Homo sapiens: one gene and its partners. The protein of the gene in region 2 interacts with the protein of the main gene of each other region in a biochemical or structural test. Each region holds a gene or a part of one and is shown on either strand. Other genes may lie near its edges. The genes, in order: ARPC1B, PAK1, TGFBR2, HACE1, TGFBR1, ABI3 and LIMK1.

Region 1 (3,500 bases), on a different chromosome or scaffold from region 2:
GTTCAAGTGATTCTCTTGCCTCGACCCCCCGAGCAGCTGGGATTACAAGTGCCCACCACCAAGCCCAGATAAATTTTGTATTTTTAGTAGAGAGGGTTTTACCATGTTGGGCAGGCTGGTCTCAAACTCCTGACCTCAGGTGATCCACCTGCCTCCGCCTCCCAAAGTCTGGGATTACAGGTGTGAGCCACCGCACCCGTCGGTTGATAGGTCTTTTCTAATATTAATAATTACGTAGCATCTCAACATGTTAATGTCATAATTTACTCTTTCCATATTGTCACCTGGGTTTTTCCACACTGTCACCATTATAAAGACAGCTATTATAAACATGTTTGCTTTATTTTTTAGATGAGGTTTCACTCTGTCACCCAGGCTGGAGTACAGTGACGAGATCTCGGCTCACTGCAACCTCCACCTTCCCAGCTCAAGGAATCCTCCAGCCTCAGCCCCTCAGATAGCCAGGACTACAGGCGTACAGCATCACATCCCGCTAATTTTTTTTTTTTTTTTGGTAGTTTTTATAGACACAGGGTTTTGCCATGTTGCCCAGGCTGGTCTCCGAACTCCTGGACTCAAGTGATCCACCTGGCTTGGCCTCCCAAAATGGTGGGATTACAGGCGTGAGCCATGGCACCCCACCTGTTTGCTTTTAAAAAAGAAAAATGGGGCCAGGCGTGGTGGCTCACACCTGTAATCCCAGCACTTTGGGAGGCCGAGGCGGGTGGATCACAAGGTCAGGAGTTCGAGACCAGCCTGTCCAACATGGTGAAACCCCATCTCTACTAAAAACAAAAACAAAAATTAGCTGGGCGTGGTGGTGGGCACCTGTAGTTCCACCTACTGGGGAGGCTGAGACAGGAGAATTGCTTGAACCTGGGAGGCGGAGGTTGCAGTGAGCCGAGAATGCACCACTACACTCCAGCCTGGGCGACAGAATGAGACTACATCTCAAAAATAAAAAAGAAAAAGAAAGAAAAATGTGTTGCTGTTTTCTTAGGACCAAATGGGTGTATGTGACCAAAGAATGTTAATTTTCTTTTTCTTTTTTTTTTTTTTTTTTTTGAGATGGAGTCTTGCTCTGTCCTCCAGGCTGGAGTGCAGTGGCGCAATCTCGGCTCACTGCAAGCTCCGCCTTCCGGGTTCACGCCATTCTCTTGCCTCAGCCTCCCGAGTAGCTGGGACTACAGGCGCCCGCCACCACGCCCGGCTTAATTTTTTGTATTTTTAGTAGAGACGGGGTTTCACCGTTTTAGCCAGGATGGTCTCGATCTCCTGACCTCGTGATCCACCCACCTCGGCCTCCCAAAGTGCTGGGAGTATAGGCGTGAGCCACCACACCTGGCCAGAATGCTAATTTTCAAGTTCCTGTTAGTGTTATTCTGTTCTATTAATATTTGGTCCCACCCACTTGTTGAATTGAGTGCCCTTCAGAAGAATTAAACCAATTAGCAACAAATGACAATTTCTCCACAGCTCTGCTAGCATTGAATTTTGTGTGTTTTTGTTTTGTTTGGATGACTAACCGGTGCTTTAATGGTACCTTACGATTGTTTTCATGTGTGTTTCTTGACTTCACTCTGCGTGGTTGGTAAGACTTCAAGAGCAGAGCTGGAGAGGGAAGGATAGGGGTAGGAAGGGCTCTGACCCAGCATAGGAAGTTGAGTAACCGCTTAGCACGGTGCAAATTAGCCTGCTGGCTGCTCTATCCAAGAACTGCCTGAGCTGGGTGGGGACTTCCCAGAGCGCCTGTAATGCTGAGATCTTTCCTCCAGGCAACTCCTCCTTGGTTTAGCCTCTGATACAGCCAAACCTCTGGATTCAGGGAAACCTAAGGAAGCCAGGCAAGAAGGGTCCCGCAGCCTGTGCCTAGTCTAGCCCCAGCCTCATCTGGATTAAGATGGGAGGGAAATATTGGCTGAGGGCACCCAGCCAGTATGAAGACAGCTAGAATGTAAACCCAGCACAGTAAGGGAGAGAGTATCAAGGCCCAGGACTTTAGAGTGCCTCACCACCACCACCCCGCCGCTGGGCAGCCTGAGGCTTTCTTTGCCTGGCACCACCATGCCTGGCTAATTTTTTTTTTTTTTTTCCAAGTGGAGACGGGGTTTTGCCATGTTGGCCAGGATGGTCTCAAACTCCTGACCTCAAGTGATCCACCCACCTCGGCCTCCGAAAGTGCTGGGATTACAGGCGTGAGCCACTGTGCCCGGCTATCCCCTCCTCTCTCTGGTTTCTTAACATCAAACAGGCCCACAGTGCTGGCTCACAGGGCCACAGTGATAGTGGGTTGGTGTCCTGGATCCCTCCCCCAGGAGCCATCACTGAGACCTTATGCTGTCAACACTGGTGGGTGAAGCAGCCCTCGTATTTTTCTCCTGAGACATCCAGAGCAGGGTAATTGGCAGGCGGGGGTGAGCACACGCTGGCTCACGCAGGCTTGGTAGGTGAGAGGTTTTCCTGAGGATGATGAAGTTGGAGTGTCCCCGGCTAGAATCCCTGAGGCAGGAGACTGGAGCCCTGTGGCAGCATTGGCTGAGAGAAGCCACTCCCTTTTTGCTCTCCCACTTCCTCACTGGTAAGATGTGGGGGTTGGGGAGTTATCGCAGAGGCGCTTTGGGTTTCAGCTGCTTTGCAGAAGTTATGGAAAAAGGGAAATGAGTCTTCCTGTCTCTCGCCCCCTTAACACTTCTTTGCCCCATTTAAGGGGTTTGTTCAACAGACTAGGAAGTATTTCTGCTAATTCATGCTGAAGTGTGATTGGCTGATAGGTGTGGTCTCAACCTCCCTCCTCTGCCAGTCACTAGTGTACCACTGTGGCCATCTTTTCCAGCCCCTCCTCTGCCCCTTGAGTATGTCTAGGTCCTAGAAACAGTGGTCAGGGCTCTTCAAGTCCTCTCGGTTGCCCTTGCCCACTGGCACACGTGGGGGTTGCTGTCTTCAGCAGAGCCAGCCACTCCGTCTTGACAGCCAGGGCAGAGATGTGGCTGGGCACACAGCAAGAATGTGACCACTGATGCTGGGATGTCAGAGTCTGTGCATCAACCCAGGGTTCTGAGTCTGGGCTCTCCCACCCTCATCCCCGGAGGTTCCTTCAGTCTGGGCCTCCTGGGGCTGAAAGGGAGGGAAAAATTGGCCTCAGCTGGAGTCCTGGGGCCAACCAGAGCCTGGGTGGAGTGTGAAAGTGGGCTTCTGGCCTTCACCCTGCCCCTGCCCTGCTGGTGACCTTGGACCATGGGGGTTGTCGGGGTGTAGATGAGCACCGTGAATCAGTCACAGGCCTTGAGCTTCTCTCTGCACAGTGCTGGCATCAGATGTGGGTGGTGATGTCCCAGCCTGGGAACACAGGAAACGCTCAGGGAAACCCCCATCAGACCTGCTGACATGGCTGAGGGCGCTGAGATGGTGCTTCCGGGGCCCTCACCTTACACAAAGAGGCCTTATAAGGAGAGAGAGGCTGCAGAGGCAGCCCCAGTGGGTGCCGGGTGCTTGTTCTGGGT
Region 2 (3,500 bases):
TGGGAGGTTTGGTGATCCTGATAGTTAAGTTCCATGGCAGCTGGACCAGATGCATCTTGCTTTTCTTCTTTGCACAGAATGTGAAGGCTGTGTCTGAGACTCCTGCAGTGCCACCAGTTTCAGAAGATGAGGATGATGATGATGATGATGCTACCCCACCACCAGTGATTGCTCCACGCCCAGAGCACACAAAATCTGTGAGTCTTTGGGGACCTGGCCAGTTTTGTGATTTATTAGAGTAAGTGGGGAGAGGGAGGAGTTGGTGCTGATACCTAGAAGTTTAATATTCTGGTAGGCGTCCTTAGATTTTGGAGCTGGTGAAATCACTGAACTACCTTGACTAAAGGTACTTTCTGTATGATTAAAGACAAAAAATCATGTGTTTATTTATCATTGGTTTGCAGATAGTCCCAAAGTGTCCTAGGTAATTGATGTTTATACCAGTCCAGTCTCGGTTCTCCACAGATAGGACAGGAAGATATATAGGATTGATGCTACTTAGTGCAGGACTAACATAAATTATTCCAGTCTCCAGGGAAGCAACAAATTGTCTTGCTACAGATCTTTTCTTCTCTGTTAAATGTGCAGTGTTCAGCCTCTTAGAGCATTATTGATAATATTGAAAGACCCAAGAGAATATATAAATACATTAGTGCTATTAATATGCTGGGCATCAGGAGTGCATTTTGATGCCGGATGTTGGCAGTGATTTCTATTTAACTTCCTTTGAGGTTCCTGCATCTCTGAGAATAGCCATGGTCCCTCTAACCTTGCTTTGAAACATCTAGTCCCTGTGCCTTTTACTTAATTTGGCATCACTGAGCACTGACCTACCATCAGATGATACTCTACTAGTGTTTCTTTGTTTAGGTCTTTTACTAAGATGAGAGCTCCATAATGAAGGAACCATCTAGCACTTCTGTGATCATGAAAGAAAAAAAAAAGGGCTACCTCTGGAATACAGCATTCAGGGAGGTGTTCAAACAGAAATTGGTTGAATGACTATTGGAGATGCTGTGGAGGAAATTCAAAGGAATTATATGACCTATTAGGATGAGAACTTACAAACAGAATCTGTGGAATCATCTCTGTAGGTCACAAAGTTACCTCAAGGGAAAATGCGCTTCAAAATTGGAGAGTCGTTAACACTGATATGGTTTTTTTTGGTTTGTAGACATGTTCATTTAAAACATTTTTTTCCCCACTAAACCATGAACACCTCAAAAAGTAGAGGAAATCCATATGTATGTATTTCTAGTGCTTAACATAGTTCTTGGCACCTGCAGAGGTGGGTAAATATCAGAGGACAGTAAATATTGAATTAATTAATTAATTGATCTTCATAGCATTTCTTTCTAAAAAGGTATTGGTAATTCCTAATTTATAGAAGAAGCAGCTGAGATTTGGAGAGGTGAATTGATCTGCCCAGTCTCTTAGTAAACAAAAGAGCCAGGATTTGAAAGCAGGTAATTAACCCCAACTCCAGGTTGTTTTCCACCATAGCACAGTGGTATTTTTGTGTGTACAAACCTGTGCTAGGAGCCAGAGAAGGAGACTATTAAAGAAGGAAAAGGCAAGGTTTCTGTCTTCAAAGAGATATATCAGGACAGGCAAAAGAGGACAAGGCATGGAAGTACAGGTTTAGGTGCCTGGGATATAGTTTGTCTACAGGTACAAGAATAGAAAATTGAGAAATCATTATGCTAGAGTAGTAATCAGGAAGGAAGCCATTGCCTCTGATCTCAGCGTCTTGGCTTATTGCTGTTCCCACTACTGGAATGTTCTCTCCCATTTCCACCTATTAAAAGCCTGTCCAGTCAAAAGGTAGCATGGTCAAGCAGTCCAAGGTGCAGGATGTAGTTGGCTTTAGTCTCTGTGGAGCCATGGGTTTGAGTCCCACTGTTGCCAATGGCTTTGCATCATCGCAGATAAATGATCATCATAGATAAATGATCCTCTATCTTTGTAGAAACCTATCCGTCCTTCAGGATCCAGTTGCAGGATCCTGTTTGTTTATTTATTCCATCAAATATTTACCTGAATGCTTGCTTTCTTTTAGTAAGTGGTTAGATGGAGGAACTCACGGATGAATGACCCACATTCCCTGTCCTTATACTGTTTATGGACTATGCAAAAGATAATTGTGATATTTTTATGATAAAATCTGTTAAATACCTTGAAGCATCTCCTGGGGAAAGGAAGTATAATTTATGATCACTTCTGAACCTCAGTAGTATATAGCTTGCTTATTTCTTTATAACATGTATCACTTTCTGCCTTGTAGTTATGATTTTCTCACCTCCTTTATAAGAATGAGAGGTTGGGGCAGCATTTTGTACAGGGTGAGGCAACAAATAGATTCTCAGTAAATGTTTGTTATGTAAATGAATGAATAGGACATTTAATATTTTTAAAAGGTAAAATTTGAGTGCTTAATGTCTGCTGGGGATGAGTCTGATTACCTCACATATTAATCAGTTTACTCCTACAGCAACCCCAAAAGATAGTTATCATTATTATCACCATTTTATAGATGAGGAAACTGAAACACAGAGAAGTTAAGTAACCTGCCCAAAGTCATGCAGAAGGTAAGAATAATAAGAGTTGGGATTTAAGTTCAGGCAGTCAGGTTCCAGAGTCCATGTTCTAAATCATCACACTCTACTACCTCTTGATGAAGAACAAAAGTAGTTCCTTCCCTGCAAGGGTTCAGGATGTAAGGAGGGAGTAACTCAATAGAAGTTGGTGTTGTACTAGTAATGCAAAGTGCTATTTGCATTACTACAGGATATGTCTTTTAACTTGGGGAAGCATAAAATATTACAAATGAAGGGGATTCTTACCTAATAGAATTGTCTTCAACTAATTTCTTTTGTTACAGAATATTTCTTTTAGCTTGGGGAATACAGGATATTTCTTTTAGCTTGGGGAAGCATAAAATATTACAGATGAAGGGGATTCTTATCTAATAGAATTGTCTTTAACTAATTTCTTTTGATAGTTGTCTAGCCTCTATTGAATATCTTTAGTGCTGAGACTCTCACTTCTTTTGTTTACAGTGAGAGTAAGGAAGGCCATTTTACCCAGAATGGGTGGGCCTGGGCACAGAGGAGGAGTAATATAGATTTTGACATAAGAGAAAGGATGAGTTTATTGGGGTTTGCTCTGTGGATGTTCTAACCTCACATCTAGGAGAGGTTCCCCTATGCTAACAAAGGCTGGTCTTGCCAAAATTTTGCACTAATAATGCAGGTATACACACGGTCTGTGATTGAACCACTTCCTGTCACTCCAACTCGGGACGTGGCTACATCTCCCATTTCACCTACTGAAAATAACACCACTCCACCAGATGCTTTGACCCGGAATACTGAGAAGCAGAAGAAGAAGCCTAAAATGTCTGATGAGGAGATCTTGGAGAAATTACGTAAGGAATTTGTAGCTTTCTGAACCTTTCTTCGTTTTATGACTGGTCAAGCACAGAGATTTGCTGGTCGTAG
Region 3 (3,500 bases), on a different chromosome or scaffold from region 2:
CCTATGCTCAGCTATATCCAAAAAGAGTTTGAAAAGTTAGCTGTGCCTGGCTGTTACAGGAGTGAGTGGAGAAAGCAGTTAAGGGCTTTACCAGGTCTCAAGTATTACAGTTGTTTTCTCTCTGTGATGTTAGTTCTCTCAGTAGCTAAGAGGTAGAAAACCGGAGGCTCTGGAAGAGCTGCCCAATAATTATAGAGCAGCTTTCTTTCATGGCTCACAGTTCCTTCTTAGGCCTCTATAAGCGTCACAAGGAAAAGAGACCATGCCTTTCTGTGGGCACAGCATACCTTCGTTTTATTACCCAAACCAAAAACAACCTACACACACACACACACACACACACACACACACACACACACACAAAACTGTGGGGGCAGGGAGGAAGGTGTTCTTGTTCCATGACTACAGCTGATTTGAAGACTGCCAAGTAGCTTTGGGGTTAAAGATGGGTAGATTTCCAAATTATACATCATTTGTTGTATGATCATGCCAACTTTCATTTAGTTTCATTTGGTGTCCTGATAGCCACCCTCAACCAATTATTCTGCTTGTCACTCTTCCTGTCACAGCAGGGACCAACTTAGCAAAGCCTTGCTCCTCTTGTGTCTTTCGGAATTCTAGTTTAAGAACCCTTGAGCCCCTTCACAAGCAGACACATGTACCTCCACTGGAGTCAACTCTGGGCTGCATGGATGTTGACACTGGCACCATTCCTGCCTGGATTGTCCTAACCCATACCCTTGCCCTTATCCCTTTGTCAACATATTGTCCTTTAATGTCCTTGACTTAAGCACTAAAAAAGTGGTATTGGTCAAAGTTGCTCTTTCTCTCATGGGGATGGCCCCGCATCTTTTATAGGTGCAAGCTGTGTCTTAGCTGCTTCTTGCTTCTAGCCTGCCTTCCGTTTTCCTTGCTGTGAGCAGTGAGCCTTTGTGCATGGGGCAGGGAGGATTAGGGGAAAATTGGTGAGTGAGTACATGCATGCATTGGCTCATGTGTGCACTCAGAATCTTCATAGAAGATTACTCTAGCAAAACTGACTGGACCAGATTAGCCCTTCCTTCCGCTCCCTCTCTAGACAGAGAGAATGCGATTCAAGACAACAGGTATTTTGCATCTAAAAAGGACAGAGGTGAAAGGGTGGATGTCAGACTAGCCTTGTTGGACAGTCATCCAAGATAGTATGTTCATGAGGGAGCAGAGGGAGGTAGATAGAGAGGTGATACCCTTTTCCAAGAGAGCCAAAATGTTCTTTTGTTCAATTATAATAGTGGGCATTAATCATGTTGTTTAAAAATCTAATGTACACTGACGGCCAATTGAGCATTTCCTAGGGCCCAAGGAAAATGCTATGTGAGAAATTCTCTGAGCCCTGGGCTAAATTAGTCTTCAAATATGTGCTATGAAGTGATACTGTCAAAGTAGTTAGTTTATGACAGCATAAAATATTTCATTGAACTGTAAATGAAGAACACCCTGACATCCCTTTCCATTTCTTTTATTTATTTGTTTTTTTTGTTTGTTTGTTTTTTCTGAATTGCTCCTTTCTGTAATTTGGGAAAGACTGCAGTTCTTTATCTGCGATGTTTCTTCCCGTTTTTCTCAGCAGAACCAGCTGTTGACAAGGAGTATACCCTTTACACGCAATGCTCTGGGGCCCAGCAAACAAAAAAAAGAGGAACTGTGACTATTTCCCCAGGCATGCTCTTTGAAAACAGTATAGCTAGACAGGACAGATTTTGCCACTTAAACTAGGGGTGTGATGTGAGGTTTGCATTACATTCAGGATGGAAGATTTAAAATTATCCTGAGTACCTAGGAATGTTCTTTTTTTCCATGTCTTCCCCTTTAATGATTTAATTAAGACTTAAATATGTAAAGTTCTCCACCAGGACTGCCCCGTGGAACGCTGTCTGCTCCAGGTGATGTTTATAATCACAAATGGGTTCCAAGAATAAACAAAGGAAAAACAGAAAAGAGTAGAAAAGCATAGGAGACTATAGGACAGCCTGCGAATGCTGGAGAACAGGAACCAGCTGCCGTTGTTAGGAACAACTTCATGAAGGAAAAGTATTCCAGATTGCCTTTCTGTCTGGAGGCCATATTATTCATTTATTCTCTTTCTCTCTCTCCCTCTCCCCTCGCTTCCAATGAATCTCTTCACTCTAGGAGAAAGAATGACGAGAACATAACACTAGAGACAGTTTGCCATGACCCCAAGCTCCCCTACCATGACTTTATTCTGGAAGATGCTGCTTCTCCAAAGTGCATTATGAAGGAAAAAAAAAAGCCTGGTGAGACTTTCTTCATGTGTTCCTGTAGCTCTGATGAGTGCAATGACAACATCATCTTCTCAGAAGGTGAGTTTTCTTCTCTTAAGGGTGTGGGACCTGAGATCTGTGCCAATTTTTTGTATCCTTGGTCTGCAGTGTCATAGAGCACATTCCTCCTGTGGTGGATTGCATACAGTGGATTAGGAGCTCATTCAGCTGGTGGAAAGAGGGGCTTGGGGAGTAGCAGGGTTTGTTCTGGTTCTCATCAAATATGGTTGACTGGGGCAAACATTATTATTTGTCTTTGACAAATAGTTTCTTTCACCTAGAGCAGTGTTTCTCAAAGTGCGGCCTCTTGAGCAGCCAGCATCAGTATCACCTGGGAACCTGTTATAAATGCAGATTCTCAGGCCCCACTAAATGAGAAACATAGAGGGTGAACCCCAGCTATCTGTATTTTAACAAGCCCTCCCAGTAATTCTGTGCAGCTAAAATTTGGTAACTATTGTTCTAAAGATTTGGATGGGGTTGTTTAATCTTGGAGGAGGACTTTCTTTATAACTGATGTTGTTTCTTGTACATAGTCCCAGGATTTGTCTTTAGGGTACTTGTCATCGATCCCATTTGAGAGAAACATTGCAATACAGAGAGGAAATAATAAGCCAAAGTTTACCCCTAGAGCCAGGAGAAGAGTAGATTAGATACTAGCCTCCATCTTTGAAGTTCAGCGTTTACTCAGCTTGAAAGGAAGGCATACACTATTCCCTCAATTTTTAATAAGAAGAGAATTCAGTGGTTTTTAATTACAAAAGTAGTATATGCTCGTCATCAAAAATTTCAAACAATCCAACAGTGTGTGAAAATTAAAAATGAAAGTACATTTTCGTCCTCCCCTCACTCCCAATGCAACAGATCATCTGTATTGACAATGTATTAGATGCACACACGTCTCTATCATTCATTCATATTATCTCCCACTCCATCCTCTCTCCCAATCTCTCCCTGTCTTCCTTTCTCTTTCCCTCCTTTCATCCATCTGTCCATCCTTCCATCCACTCATCCATCTTTCAGTACAACTATCTGATCATACTATAAATATTATTTTGCAACACTTTTTTATACCCAACCACTTTTACAATTCCTTCTAAACAAGATAGAACACATAGATATACTGTACATCTTTTAATTTAGTCTCGAATTTCATATTATCTCCCACGATGGATCTTA
Region 4 (3,500 bases), on a different chromosome or scaffold from region 2:
TAATCTCCTTCCATGGCGGTCTTTAAAAGAAAGATTATTTCTTTCCTTGAAATATTTTAAAGGTGAGTCTTTCTGTAGCACATGGTGTAGTTTGTAGCATTCTGTAATCATGTCAGATTCAAAAAGTGAGATAAACTTTTATATTTATTTGCAGAAGGATAGCTAATCATTCTCAATAAGAATATTTAAAATAGTGTAGGATGAAGGGATTGTTTAACCACTGTACCACTTATAAACTATTAATCTTTATTTGGGATTAAAAATATCCTAGCAGGTTTTTTTTTTTGTTTGTTTGTTTGTTTTTTTTTTTTTTTTGGAGACAGTATCTCACTCTTTCACCCAGGCTGGAGTATAGTGACATGATCACAGCTCACTGTAGCCTTGACTTCCGAGACTCAAGCAATCCTCCCCCTTCAACCTCCTCAGTAACTGGGACTACAAGTGCATGCCTGTGTACCCAGCTAGAATAATAATAGGAAATAGTTTATTCTCTCCTCATCTTTTTTTTTTTTAATAGAAAGGTGTTAATCTTTACTTGGAATTAAGAATTTGCTACTCAGTATTTTTTTTTTTTTTTTTGAGATGGAGTCTCGCCCTGTCACCCAGGCTGGAGTGCAGTGGTGTGATCTTAGCTCACTGCAACCTCTGCCTCCTGGGTTCAAGTGATCGTCCTGCCTCAGCCTCCCGAGTAGCTGGAATTATAGGTGTGTGCCACCATGTCTGGCTAATTTTTTGTATTTTTAGTAGAGATGGGATTTCAATTCACCATGTTGGCCAGGCTGATCTCGAATTCCTGACCTCAAGTGATCTACCCACCTCGGCCTCCCAAAGTGCTGGGATTACAGGCGTGAGCCACCATCTCCGGCCTGCTAGTCAGTATTTTAATAGAAGTTTGGTAATTGTATCTCTTGTTTTAAAAAAACACTAATTATTAGAAATGGATTGTGTCTGTAAGTATATGTATATACATAAATATGCCACATTTTGTAATTTCTTGTCAAAAATTATCCAAATTCTAGGAATTATATGTAATGAAAGGAGCACAGTAAAAAAGCTGTTCATTAGGTTCTTTAGGGATTCTCATTTTTTAATTGAAAAAAGACATTTGTTTAATTGAAAGTTGTTGACATTGATCATATTAATACAGAAAATGTTGAGTGATTATACTTAGGGGTTCTCATTTTTTAACTGAAAAAATCTTATTTGTTTAATTGAAAGTGGTTGACATTGATCATATTAATACAGTAAATGTTAAGGGTGATTATATATAGTAGTAATGTGTGCTTTTAAAACTAAACATTTGAAAATTAAAAGAAGAAAGATTGTGAATTTTTTGTTAGATTTAGTTTTTCCTTTTTATTACAAGGAATACATACATACAAATTAAATTATTGCCATAAATGAAGAAATTGTCATTTATGTAGCATTTGTATAATTTTATTACTTACCTTTAGGCATTACTATCACGTTAACTTGGGAAGATAGAAATGACTAGAGTAAATTTTCTCTTCTATAATATTTGTCTAGTTGTGTTTTGTTTTTTTTTTTTTAATCCTGTAGTTTAAGAATGATGTTTAAAAAACACTTTTGTTTCTCTCAGCCTCTGGAATTGCTTTGGCACTCGTTAGATGAATGGCTAGTTTTAATAGCCACAGAATTGATGAAAAACAAAAGAGACTCAACAGAGATCACTTCTATTTTACTGAAACAAAAAGGCCAAGATCAAGATGCTGCTTCCATTCCTCCATTTGAACCTCCAGGACCTGGGAGCTATGAAAATCTGTCCACTGGCACAAGGGAATCTAAACCAGATGCTCTTGCAGGGAGACAGGAAGCCAGTGCAGATTGTCAGGATGTTATTTCTATGACAGCTAACCGGCTAAGTGCTGTCATTCAAGCTTTTTACATGTGCTGTTCTTGTCAGATGCCTCCGGGGTAAGAAAGTTTTGGCTTATTATTTTTTTTTTCTCTGATAGATGATGAAAAGCAGTGATACTTTTGTAATTTCAAAAACAACAAATAATAATTTGTTGATTTAAAGTTTTCTCCTTGTTTTAAGATACTCATACTAATCTAGATCTAGTAGGGAATATTTAAATATTAAGCAGTATATATTATTACTTTGTAGAATGGTGAATGTCACCTTGTATAGGATCTCTTAATTATGTATTTGAAATGTGTAGAGCAGAAATGCACCAAATTTCAAGATTTTTAAAAAGTCACTTGTTGATATCGTCTGCTGATGAGAAGTTAGAATCATTTTACAAATTGGCTAGGCATACTTCAGTTTCCTAAACTTACAAAGAAGATTCAAAACCAAATTCTTTTTTTTTTGGTTTAGAAGCCAGTCCAGTTCAGTATATATTTATCAAGTTCGCTATATTATATCACAAACTTTTGCCTGTGTATTCTGATTGATGTTTTCCCCCCACAGAATGACTTCACCTCGTTTCATTGAATTTGTCTGCAAACATGATGAAGTTTTAAAATGCTTTGTTAATAGGTAAGCTTTCTGGGTTTGTGGAGTACCCTGCTAGCCTTTCCTCTCTTTACTTACAGTTTCATCTAAACAGAAAAAATACTATTTCTCGTACTATTCAAAATATGCTCAATAACAAATGAAACTTTAATAGATATGGATTATTATGTGTTTTTCTTCTGTTTCAGTGTCAGTGTATCTGAATTTGCATTTCACTTAATGCTACTCATTCTTCCTGTCCATTTAAACAAAATATTTTTCTTTTAGAAATCCCAAAATTATATTTGACCACTTTCACTTTCTCCTTGAATGTCCTGAGTTGATGTCAAGATTCATGCATATCATAAAAGCACAGGTAGAAATTTTTCTTCATCTTTTTATTCTATCTAATGAAATTAATTTCTAAAATTCTAATACTGTTTAGTGGAATAATTATTACACTTCAGACATTCTGTTGTAAGAGGAATGATTGCATGTTACTTTAATATGAGGAGTAAGTTTTCTTCAAGAAATATGTACTGAGTGCCTACTATGTACAGAGGTCTGTACAAAAACAACAGAACACATTGCCACATTTCCTGAAAGGAGCTTAATGAAACTCTTTAGTTCTATAAGGCTGATTGTCCTTTTGAAAAGGATTTTAGCCCCCAAATACATTTGGGAAATTACATAACATATGCCCTTTGGAAATTTATAAATCACATTGGCAGCATGTTAAAAGGCTTTGAGAAGCCCTTCAGTAAAAATAGTGATTTAGCTTTGTTAATCCTCCTAACTTATTTGACCTGACCACCTTTCCCCTACCAGATGTGTACCTGTTCATTCCATACATCTCATGTTACATGAAGCTAGCTGGAGGAAAGCTTGTTTTGCTCCTTACCAGCTATGTGAACTTTGGGCACGTTTCCTAATATCCTTGAGCCCTTGGTTTCTTCATCTACAAAATGGAGATAATGACAGCAGCCTCATAGAACTATTGTCCAGAATAAATTGTCAGGAATGACTGTGATATATGCTCAAT
Region 5 (2,290 bases), on a different chromosome or scaffold from region 2:
TATTCTGAAAATGCCTTTCTCCTACCAAAATGTGCTTAAGCCACTAAAGAAATGAAGTGGCATTAATTAGTAAATTATTAGCATGGTCATGTTTGAATATTCTCACATCAAGCTTTTGCATTTTAATTGTGTTGTCTAAGTATACTTTTAAAAAATCAAGTGGCACTCTAGATGCTTATAGTACTTTAATATTTGTAGCATACAGACTAATTTTTCTAAAAGGGAAAGTCTGTCTAGCTGCTTGTGAAAAGTTATGTGGTATTCTGTAAGCCATTTTTTTCTTTATCTGTTCAAAGACTTATTTTTTAAGACATGAATTACATTTAAAATTAGAATATGGTTAATATTAAATAATAGGCCTTTTTCTAGGAAGGCGAAGGTAGTTAATAATTTGAATAGATAACAGATGTGCAAGAAAGTCACATTTGTTATGTATGTAGGAGTAAACGTTCGGTGGATCCTCTGTCTTTGTAACTGAGGTTAGAGCTAGTGTGGTTTTGAGGTCTCACTACACTTTGAGGAAGGCAGCTTTTAATTCAGTGTTTCCTTATGTGTGCGTACATTGCAACTGCTTACATGTAATTTATGTAATGCATTCAGTGCACCCTTGTTACTTGGGAGAGGTGGTAGCTAAAGAACATTCTGAGTATAGGTTTTTCTCCATTTACAGATGTCTTTGGTCAAATATTGAAAGCAAACTTGTCATGGTCTTCTTACATTAAGTTGAAACTAGCTTATAATAACTGGTTTTTACTTCCAATGCTATGAAGTCTCTGCAGGGCTTTTACAGTTTTCGAAGTCCTTTTATCACTGTGATCTTATTCTGAGGGGAGAAAAAACTATCATAGCTCTGAGGCAAGACTTCGACTTTATAGTGCTATCAGTTCCCCGATACAGGGTCAGAGTAACCCATACAGTATTTTGGTCAGGAAGAGAAAGTGGCCATTTACACTGAATGAGTTGCATTCTGATAATGTCTTATCTCTTATACGTAGAATAAATTTGAAAGACTATTTGATCTTAAAACCAAAGTAATTTTAGAATGAGTGACATATTACATAGGAATTTAGTGTCAATTTCATGTGTTTAAAAACATCATGGGAAAAATGCTTAGAGGTTACTATTTTGACTACAAAGTTGAGTTTTTTTCTGTAGTTACCATAATTTCATTGAAGCAAATGAATGAGTTTGAGAGGTTTGTTTTTATAGTTGTGTTGTATTACTTGTTTAATAATAATCTCTAATTCTGTGATCAGGTACTTTTTTTGTGGGGGTTTTTTTTTTGTTTTTTTTTTTTTGTTGTTGTTTTTGGGCCATTTCTAAGCCTACCAGATCTGCTTTATGAAATCCAGGGGACCAATGCATTTTATCACTAAAACTATTTTTATATAATTTTAAGAATATACCAAAAGTTGTCTGATTTAAAGTTGTAATACATGATTTCTCACTTTCATGTAAGGTTATCCACTTTTGCTGAAGATATTTTTTATTGAATCAAAGATTGAGTTACAATTATACTTTTCTTACCTAAGTGGATAAAATGTACTTTTGATGAATCAGGGAATTTTTTTAAAGTTGGAGTTTAGTTCTAAATTGACTTTACGTATTACTGCAGTTAATTCCTTTTTTGGCTAGGGATGGTTTGATAAACCACAATTGGCTGATATTGAAAATGAAAGAAACTTAAAAGGTGGGATGGATCATGATTACTGTCGATAACTGCAGATAAATTTGATTAGAGTAATAATTTTGTCATTTAAAAACACAGTTGTTTATACTGCCCATCCTAGGATGCTCACCTTCCAAGATTCAACGTGGCTAAAACATCTTCTGGTAAATTGTGCGTCCATATTCATTTTGTCAGTAGCCAGGAGAAATGGGGATGGGGGAAATACGACTTAGTGAGGCATAGACATCCCTGGTCCATCCTTTCTGTCTCCAGCTGTTTCTTGGAACCTGCTCTCCTGCTTGCTGGTCCCTGACGCAGAGACCGTTGCCTCCCCCACAGCCGTTTGACTGAAGGCTGCTCTGGAGACCTAGAGTAAAACGGCTGATGGAAGTTGTGGGACCCACTTCCATTTCCTTCAGTCATTAGAGGTGGAAGGGAGGGGTCTCCAAGTTTGGAGATTGAGCAGATGAGGCTTGGGATGCCCCTGCTTTGACTTCAGCCATGGATGAGGAGTGGGATGGCAGCAAGGTGGCTCCTGTGGCAGTGGAGTTGTGCCAGAAACAGTGGCCAGTTGTATCGCCTATAAGACAGGGTAAGGTCTGAAGAGCTGAGCCTGTAATT
Region 6 (3,019 bases), on a different chromosome or scaffold from region 2:
GGTGGCGCAAGCCTGTAATACCAGCTACTCGGGAGGCTGAGGCAGGAGAATCGCTTGAACCTGGGAGGCGGAGTTTGCAGTGAGCCGAGATCGCGCCATTGCACTCCAGCCTGGGCAACAAGAGCGAAACTCCATCTCAAAATAATAATAATAATAATAATAATAATAATAATAATAATAATAATAAACTTAATCCTAAGGGCCAGGCGGGGTGGCTCACGGCCGTAATCCCGGCACTTTGGGGGGCTGTGGAGGGCGGATCACTTGAGGTCAGGAGTTTGAGACCAACCTGGCCAACATGACTAAAAATACAAAAATTAGCCTGGCGTGGTGGTGCGTGCCTGTAATTCCAGCTACTCAGGAGGCTGAGGCAGGAGGATCACTTGAACCCAGGAGGCAGAGGCTGCAGTGAGCCGAGATCACCACACTGCACTCCAGCCTGGGTGACAGAGGGAGATTCCCTCTCAAAAAAATAAAATAAAGGCCGGGTGTGGTGGCTCACGCCTGTAATCCCAGCACTTTGGGAGGCTGAGGTGGGCGGATCACGAGGTCAGGAGATCGAGACCATCCTGGCTAACATGGTGAAACCCTGTCTCTACTAAAAATACAAAAAAATTAGCCGGGCGTGGTGGCGGGCGCCTGTAGTCCCAGCTACTCGGGAGGCTGAGGCAGGAGAATGGCGTGAACCCGGGAGGTGGGGCTTGCAGTGAGCCGAGATCGTGCCACTGCAATCCAGCCTGGGCGACACAGCGAGACTCGGTCTCAAAAAAAAATAAAACAAAATAAACTTAATCCTGAGAGGGTCTTTACCACTCTCCGTTAACAGATGAAGCCACTGACGCTGAGGTTCAGTGACTTGCCCAAGAGCCACCCAGCTAATAAGAGGCAGAGTCTGACCGTCCTCTACTGCTGGATCTTTCAGGGTTTACTGAGCACTTAACTATGTGCTAGCAGCACTGTGGGAAGACCAGGACAGGAGAGGGCTGGAGGAAGATTGCATGAAATGGGTGCATTCTTTTTTTCTTTTGAGATGGAGTCTCACTCTGTCATCCAGGCTGGATGGAGTGTGTTGGCAAGATCTCAGCTCACTGCAACCTCCACCTCCTGGGTTAAGCCATTCTCCTGCCTCAGTCTCCCGAGTAGCTGGAATTACAGGCGTGTGCCACCATGCCCGGCTAATTTTTGTATTTTTAGTAGAGACAGGGTTTCACCATGTTGGCCAGGCTGGTCTCGAACTCCTGGCCTCAGGTGATCTGCCCGCCTTGGCCTCCCAACGTGCCTCGCTGAGATGGGTGGATTCTGGGGTCCAGCTCTTGAGCAGTTCCCTGACACACTGAAGGAGCTTCCTGTGCCACACTTACAGCCTTTCTGCTTTTCCCCCAAGACGAAGAGCTGCCCCTGCCACTGGACCTGCCTCCTCCTCCACCCCTGGATGGAGATGAATTGGGGCTGCCTCCACCCCCACCAGGATTTGGGCCTGATGAGCCCAGCTGGGTGCCTGCCTCATACTTGGAGAAAGGTACCTGACTTCTGGGACTGAGGGGCACCGGATCCCACTTCCTCTGTTGCCCTGATCCCCATTCTCCTCCCTCTGCAAAGGTGTGAATCTATCCCCCGGGCCCCCCACACAATTTTTCTGACGAACTGACAGAACTGGGGAGAGGGCAGCTGGCCTGGTATTAAATATTAACTAAGCTGGGGAGGGGTCCTGAAGGCTTGCAAGAAGGCCCCCAAGATGGCCCCTAGAGTCTAGTACTTGAGACCGTGCATCCCCATGGTGGTGGGGGGTGAGGGGGAGAGGGCAAGAGGCATTATCTCACGGCACCCTCTTCTCTTGCCCTGCAGTGGTGACACTGTACCCATACACCAGCCAGAAGGACAATGAGCTCTCCTTCTCTGAGGGCACTGTCATCTGTGTCACTCGCCGCTACTCCGATGGCTGGTGCGAGGGCGTCAGCTCAGAGGGGACTGGATTCTTCCCTGGGAACTATGTGGAGCCCAGCTGCTGACAGCCCAGGGCTCTCTGGGCAGCTGATGTCTGCACTGAGTGGGTTTCATGAGCCCCAAGCCAAAACCAGCTCCAGTCACAGCTGGACTGGGTCTGCCCACCTCTTGGGCTGTGAGCTGTGTTCTGTCCTTCCTCCCATCGGAGGGAGAAGGGGTCCTGGGGAGAGAGAATTTATCCAGAGGCCTGCTGCAGATGGGGAAGAGCTGGAAACCAAGAAGTTTGTCAACAGAGGACCCCTACTCCATGCAGGACAGGGTCTCCTGCTGCAAGTCCCAACTTTGAATAAAACAGATGATGTCCTGTGACTGCCCCACAGAGATAAGGGGCCAGGAGGGATTGAAAGGCATCCCAGTTCTAAGGCTGCTGCTAATTACAGCCCCCAACCTCCAACCCACCAGCTGACCTAGAAGCAGCATCTTCCCATTTCCTCAGTACCCACAAAGTGCAGCCCACATTGGACCCCAGACACCCCTCTGCAGCCATTGACTGCAACTTGTTCTTTTGCCCATTGCTTGCTGTGTGTGTGGTGTGTTCATATGTGGCTGGGCACTTGCCCAAGAGTGGGAACGATCTCCATGACTTAAGCGGGGCTCTCCGAGAGCACCTCACTGTCAACTCTGAGACTGTCGCGAGAGAGATCTCAGTCATTTCTTCCCCCTTCACCTCCTTTATAGTTGTAAAACACCAGAGGAAGGAGGGGCTTGGGTTTCGCTGGTTCTGCTTAAAAACATGGCTTTCTGTTCCATGGGGGGTGGGGGGGATGCGTGGAAGGCCCAGCCCGCGAGGGTGACTTTGGTGAAGTCCCTGGTCTCTTGCTGCATAGACGAGGCTGGGATGCAAGGAGACACCGTCACTCTCTGCGAGGTTACTGGCTGTCCGGACCCGAGCCGGACGGTGCGCTACCTCGTACCACCACCAGGAGGCGATTGTTCCTCTGGCTTTTCCTTTGGGGGTGCTAGAAGGGAGTGCGGGGGTCGGGAGGCAAGAGAGTGTGGACAGCACAGAAATAGT
Region 7 (3,500 bases), on a different chromosome or scaffold from region 2:
CGGCTCACTGCAAGCCCCGCCTCCTGGGTTCACGCCATTCTCCTGCCTCAGCCTCCCGAGTAGCTGGGACTACAGGCACCTGCCACCATGCCCGGCTAATTTTTTTTTTATATTTAGTAGAGACAGGGTTTCACCATATTAGGCAGGATGGTCTCGATCTCCTGACCTCGTGATCCGCCCGTCTCGGCCTCCCAAAGTGCTGCGATTACAGGCATGAGCCACCACGCCCGGCCCTACCAAGTGCTAGCTTTCATTTGACGCAGTGAATGTTTCTTGTACACCTGGCAGGTGCCTGGCACTGCATAGGCACTGTTGAGATGTGAAGGTGGCCCTGGGGACAGAAAATTATACTGGGCTTGACTGTGTGTCTCCATCCCTTGACATCAGCCAAGCCAGCAGCTGCTTTACATACATGATGAGCAGACAGCTGCTTGAAAGAGATGAGGAAACTCCCAGACCAACGGCTCTTACCAGAGGGCCAAGGGAGGTCCCCACAGAGTCAGAGGCTGCAGCTGGTCCCTGAAATCCAGGCAGAATTTTAGAAATGAAGACAGTCAGCTGGGTGCAGCGGCTCATGCCTGTTATCTCAGCCACTTCGGAGGGCTGAGGTGAGAGGATTGCTTGAGCCCAGGAGGTGGAGGCTGCAGCAAGCTATGATGACACCATGCATTCCAGCTTGGGCGACAGAGCGAGACCCTATCTCTAAAATAAAAATGAAGAAGACAGTTAATGACGTCTCCTCCCTGTCTGCCTCACTGGGTAAGCATTCGCCCAGCCAACATCTGGAACATCCCAGTTCTGCAAAGAGCCACACCCTTCCCAGAAAGAGCCCAACTTGCCAAAGATTTACTTATTTGTTTTAAACTGGTTTTAGTTGACCGCTTTTCATTTTGTGTATAGCAGCGTTTTAAGGAAGGTCTAATTTATCCAGGCCACCTGCTGCTTTAGCAAACCAAGGGAGAGGATGTGAGATTCTAAGGAATTTACATATGTATGTCATATATATATATATATATATATAGACACACAATTTTTTTTTGAGACAGGGTCTTGCTCTGTCATACAGGCTGGAGTGCAGTGGCACAATCATAGCTCACTATAGCCTCAGATGCCTGTGCTCAAGCAATCCACTCACCTCGGCCTCCTGAGTAGTGAGACTACAGGCACACACCACCACACCCAGCTAATTTTTTAATTTTTTGTAGAGACTGAGTCTTGCTGTGTCGCCCAGGCTAGTCTTGAACTCCTGGGCTCAAGCAATCCTCCCACATTGGCTTCCCAAAGTGCTAGGATTACAAGCGTGAGCCACTATGCCTGGCTTATTTTTAAGGTTATATGCATGCAAAGCCTGTATCAATGAAAATATTTTCTTTGGTTTTTTTCAACTTTTCATCTTCGCATTTTGCAGATTTATAGAAAATTTGCTAAAATAATAAGTCCATTGAATACATACACACCCTTCACCAAGGTTCACCAATTCGTAACTGCCATATTTGGGAGTTATATGTGTGTCTCTCTATATATACATATATGGATACAGATACATATACATGTTTAGTGACTTGTTTATATTTGTACATACATGTACATGTTGTTATTTATTGATCGTTTGGGAGTAAGTTGCAGGGATCATTGACTCCCCCACAATTATGCTAGATATTCTCAAAAGAAGGACCTTCTCTTTTTTTTTTTTTTTTTTGGAGACAGGGTATCACTGTCATTGAGGCTGGAGTGCAGTGATGCGATCACAGCTCACTGCAGCCTCAACCTCCCAGGCTCAAGTGATCCTCCCACCTCTGCCTCCCAAGTAGCTGGGACTACAGGCACGGGCCACCACGCCTGGCTAGGCATTCTGTTATGTAATTATCAATTGTATCTTATAGTTCAGTGATCACATTTTGGAAATGTAACATTGATACCATTATCTAATACACAGACCATATTCAAATTTTGCCTATTGTCTCTATACTGAACTACTGAGCTGTCCTTTATAGCAATCTCCCCCTCATCCACAGTCCAGTCCATGATCAACATTGCATTTAATCGTCATGTGTCATCAGTATCTTTTTTTTTTTTTTTTTTGAGACGGAATTTTGCTCTTGTTGCCCAGGTTGGAGCGCAATGGCGCAATCTTGGCTTATTGCAACCTCCGCCTTTGGGCTTAAGTGATTCTCCTGCCTCAGCCTCCTAAGTAGCTGAGATTACAGGCGTGCACCATTATGCATGCCTAATTTTTGTATTTTTATTAGAGACGGGGTTTTACCATGTTGCCCTGGCTGGTCTTGAACTCCTGACCTCAAATGATCCACCCACCTCAGCCTCCCAAAATGCTGGGTTTACAGGCATGAGCCACTGCGTCTGGCCATTTCCTCAGCCTTTCATTGCCCTTCATGATCTTGACATTTTTGAAGTGTACAGGCCAGTCATTAAAGTAAAATGTTTTTCCTTTTTTTTTTTTTTTTTTTTAAAAAGAGACAGGGTCTCACTGTGTTGCCCAGGCTGGTCTCAGACTCCTAGGCTCAAGTGATCCTCCCGCCTCAGCTTCCCAAAGTGCTGGGATTACAGGCGTGAGCCATCGTACCTGCCCTCGCATTTGGGTTTGACTGATGTTTCCTCTTAGGGAGACAGGCTCTGCAGGTTTGGCCTGATACTGCATAAGTGATCCTCTGTCCTTCCGAGTGGATCTTGCCAGGAGACATATGATGTCAGTGTGCCCTTTGCTGAGGATGTTCACTTTGATTACTTGTTTTTTCTGTACTGTAAGGATTTTTTTCCCTTTGTCATCAATAAACCATTTGTGAGATTTGAGTCTGTAAATATCCTGTTCCCAAAAACCCTTCCCCAAATGATTTGAGCATCTATTGATGATTCTTGCCTGTAGCGATTATTACTAGGGTGGCTACCAAATGCTGAATTTCTAACTCTGTTCTTCCTTCTGCATTTGTTACTGTAAGGAAGAGCTTCTCCCCCATACGAGAATAGTCTTTTTGTTTGCTTGGTTGTTTTTTTGAGATAGGGTCTCACTCTGTTGCCCAGGCTGGAGTGCAGTGACATGATCATAGCTCACTGCAGCCTCGACCTCATGGGCTCAAGCGATCCTCCTGCCTCAGCCTCTCGAGTAGCTGGGACTACAGGCAGCACCACCATGCCTGGCTAATTTTTTATTTTTTGTAATGGTGAGGTCTCACTATTTTGCTCAGGCTGGTCTCGAACTCCTGACCTCAAGTGATCTTCCCACCTCAGCCTCCCAAATAGCTGGGATTACAGGAGTGTGCCACCATGCTCAGCTAATTTTCTGTAAAAAATGTCATAGAGATGGGGTCTTGCTATGCTGCCCAGGCTGGTCTCAAACCCCTAGTCTCAAGCAATCCTCCCACCTTGGCCTCCCAAAGTGCTGGGATTCCAGGCATGAGCCACCACACCTGGCCCTGTTTTTCTTAAAGTTCTCAGTCTCCTCTCTGCCTTACCCCCATCCCCTTTTCCATCTCCAGGACCTAGGG

The links.
Region 1: the proteins of PAK1 (region 2) and ARPC1B form a complex in vitro, tested with the Homo sapiens proteins (one study listed by BioGRID).
Region 3: the proteins of PAK1 (region 2) and TGFBR2 form a complex in vitro, tested with the Homo sapiens proteins (one study listed by BioGRID).
Region 4: of the proteins of PAK1 (region 2) and HACE1, one has a biochemical effect on the other in vitro, tested with the Homo sapiens proteins (one study listed by BioGRID).
Region 5: the proteins of PAK1 (region 2) and TGFBR1 form a complex in vitro, tested with the Homo sapiens proteins (one study listed by BioGRID).
Region 6: the proteins of PAK1 (region 2) and ABI3 form a complex in vitro, tested with the Homo sapiens proteins (one study listed by BioGRID).
Region 7: the proteins of PAK1 (region 2) and LIMK1 form a complex in vitro, tested with the Homo sapiens proteins (one study listed by BioGRID and IntAct).

Annotation. Positions count from the first base shown.
Region 1 is NC_000007.14:99,377,730-99,381,229, forward strand, and holds part of ARPC1B (actin-related protein 2/3 complex subunit 1B), read left to right. Parts: intron 1-3,500. UniProt on the Homo sapiens protein: Component of the Arp2/3 complex, a multiprotein complex that mediates actin polymerization upon stimulation by nucleation-promoting factor (NPF).
Region 2 is NC_000011.10:77,355,595-77,359,094, reverse strand, and holds part of PAK1 (serine/threonine-protein kinase PAK 1), read left to right. Parts: intron 1-77; coding exon 78-197; intron 198-3,252; coding exon 3,253-3,427; intron 3,428-3,500. UniProt on the Homo sapiens protein: Protein kinase involved in intracellular signaling pathways downstream of integrins and receptor-type kinases that plays an important role in cytoskeleton dynamics, in cell adhesion, migration, proliferation, apoptosis, mitosis, and in vesicle-mediated transport processes.
Region 3 is NC_000003.12:30,648,101-30,651,600, forward strand, and holds part of TGFBR2 (TGF-beta receptor type-2 isoform B precursor), read left to right. Parts: intron 1-2,169; coding exon 2,170-2,360; intron 2,361-3,500. UniProt on the Homo sapiens protein: Transmembrane serine/threonine kinase forming with the TGF-beta type I serine/threonine kinase receptor, TGFBR1, the non-promiscuous receptor for the TGF-beta cytokines TGFB1, TGFB2 and TGFB3.
Region 4 is NC_000006.12:104,783,420-104,786,919, reverse strand, and holds part of HACE1 (E3 ubiquitin-protein ligase HACE1), read left to right. Parts: intron 1-1,600; coding exon 1,601-1,935; intron 1,936-2,434; coding exon 2,435-2,503; intron 2,504-2,746; coding exon 2,747-2,834; intron 2,835-3,500. UniProt on the Homo sapiens protein: E3 ubiquitin-protein ligase involved in Golgi membrane fusion and regulation of small GTPases. Acts as a regulator of Golgi membrane dynamics during the cell cycle: recruited to Golgi membrane by Rab proteins and regulates postmitotic Golgi membrane fusion.
Region 5 is NC_000009.12:99,150,113-99,152,402, forward strand, and holds part of TGFBR1 (TGF-beta receptor type-1 isoform 1 precursor), read left to right. Parts: 3' UTR 1-2,290. UniProt on the Homo sapiens protein: Transmembrane serine/threonine kinase forming with the TGF-beta type II serine/threonine kinase receptor, TGFBR2, the non-promiscuous receptor for the TGF-beta cytokines TGFB1, TGFB2 and TGFB3.
Region 6 is NC_000017.11:49,220,707-49,223,725, forward strand, and holds the end of ABI3 (ABI gene family member 3), read left to right. Parts: intron 1-1,363; coding exon of another isoform or gene 1,364-1,384; coding exon 1,385-1,519; intron 1,520-1,845; coding exon 1,846-2,009; 3' UTR 2,010-2,519; downstream 2,520-3,019. UniProt on the Homo sapiens protein: May inhibit tumor metastasis. In vitro, reduces cell motility.
Region 7 is NC_000007.14:74,100,804-74,104,303, forward strand, and holds part of LIMK1 (LIM domain kinase 1), read left to right. Parts: intron 1-3,500. UniProt on the Homo sapiens protein: Serine/threonine-protein kinase that plays an essential role in the regulation of actin filament dynamics. Acts downstream of several Rho family GTPase signal transduction pathways.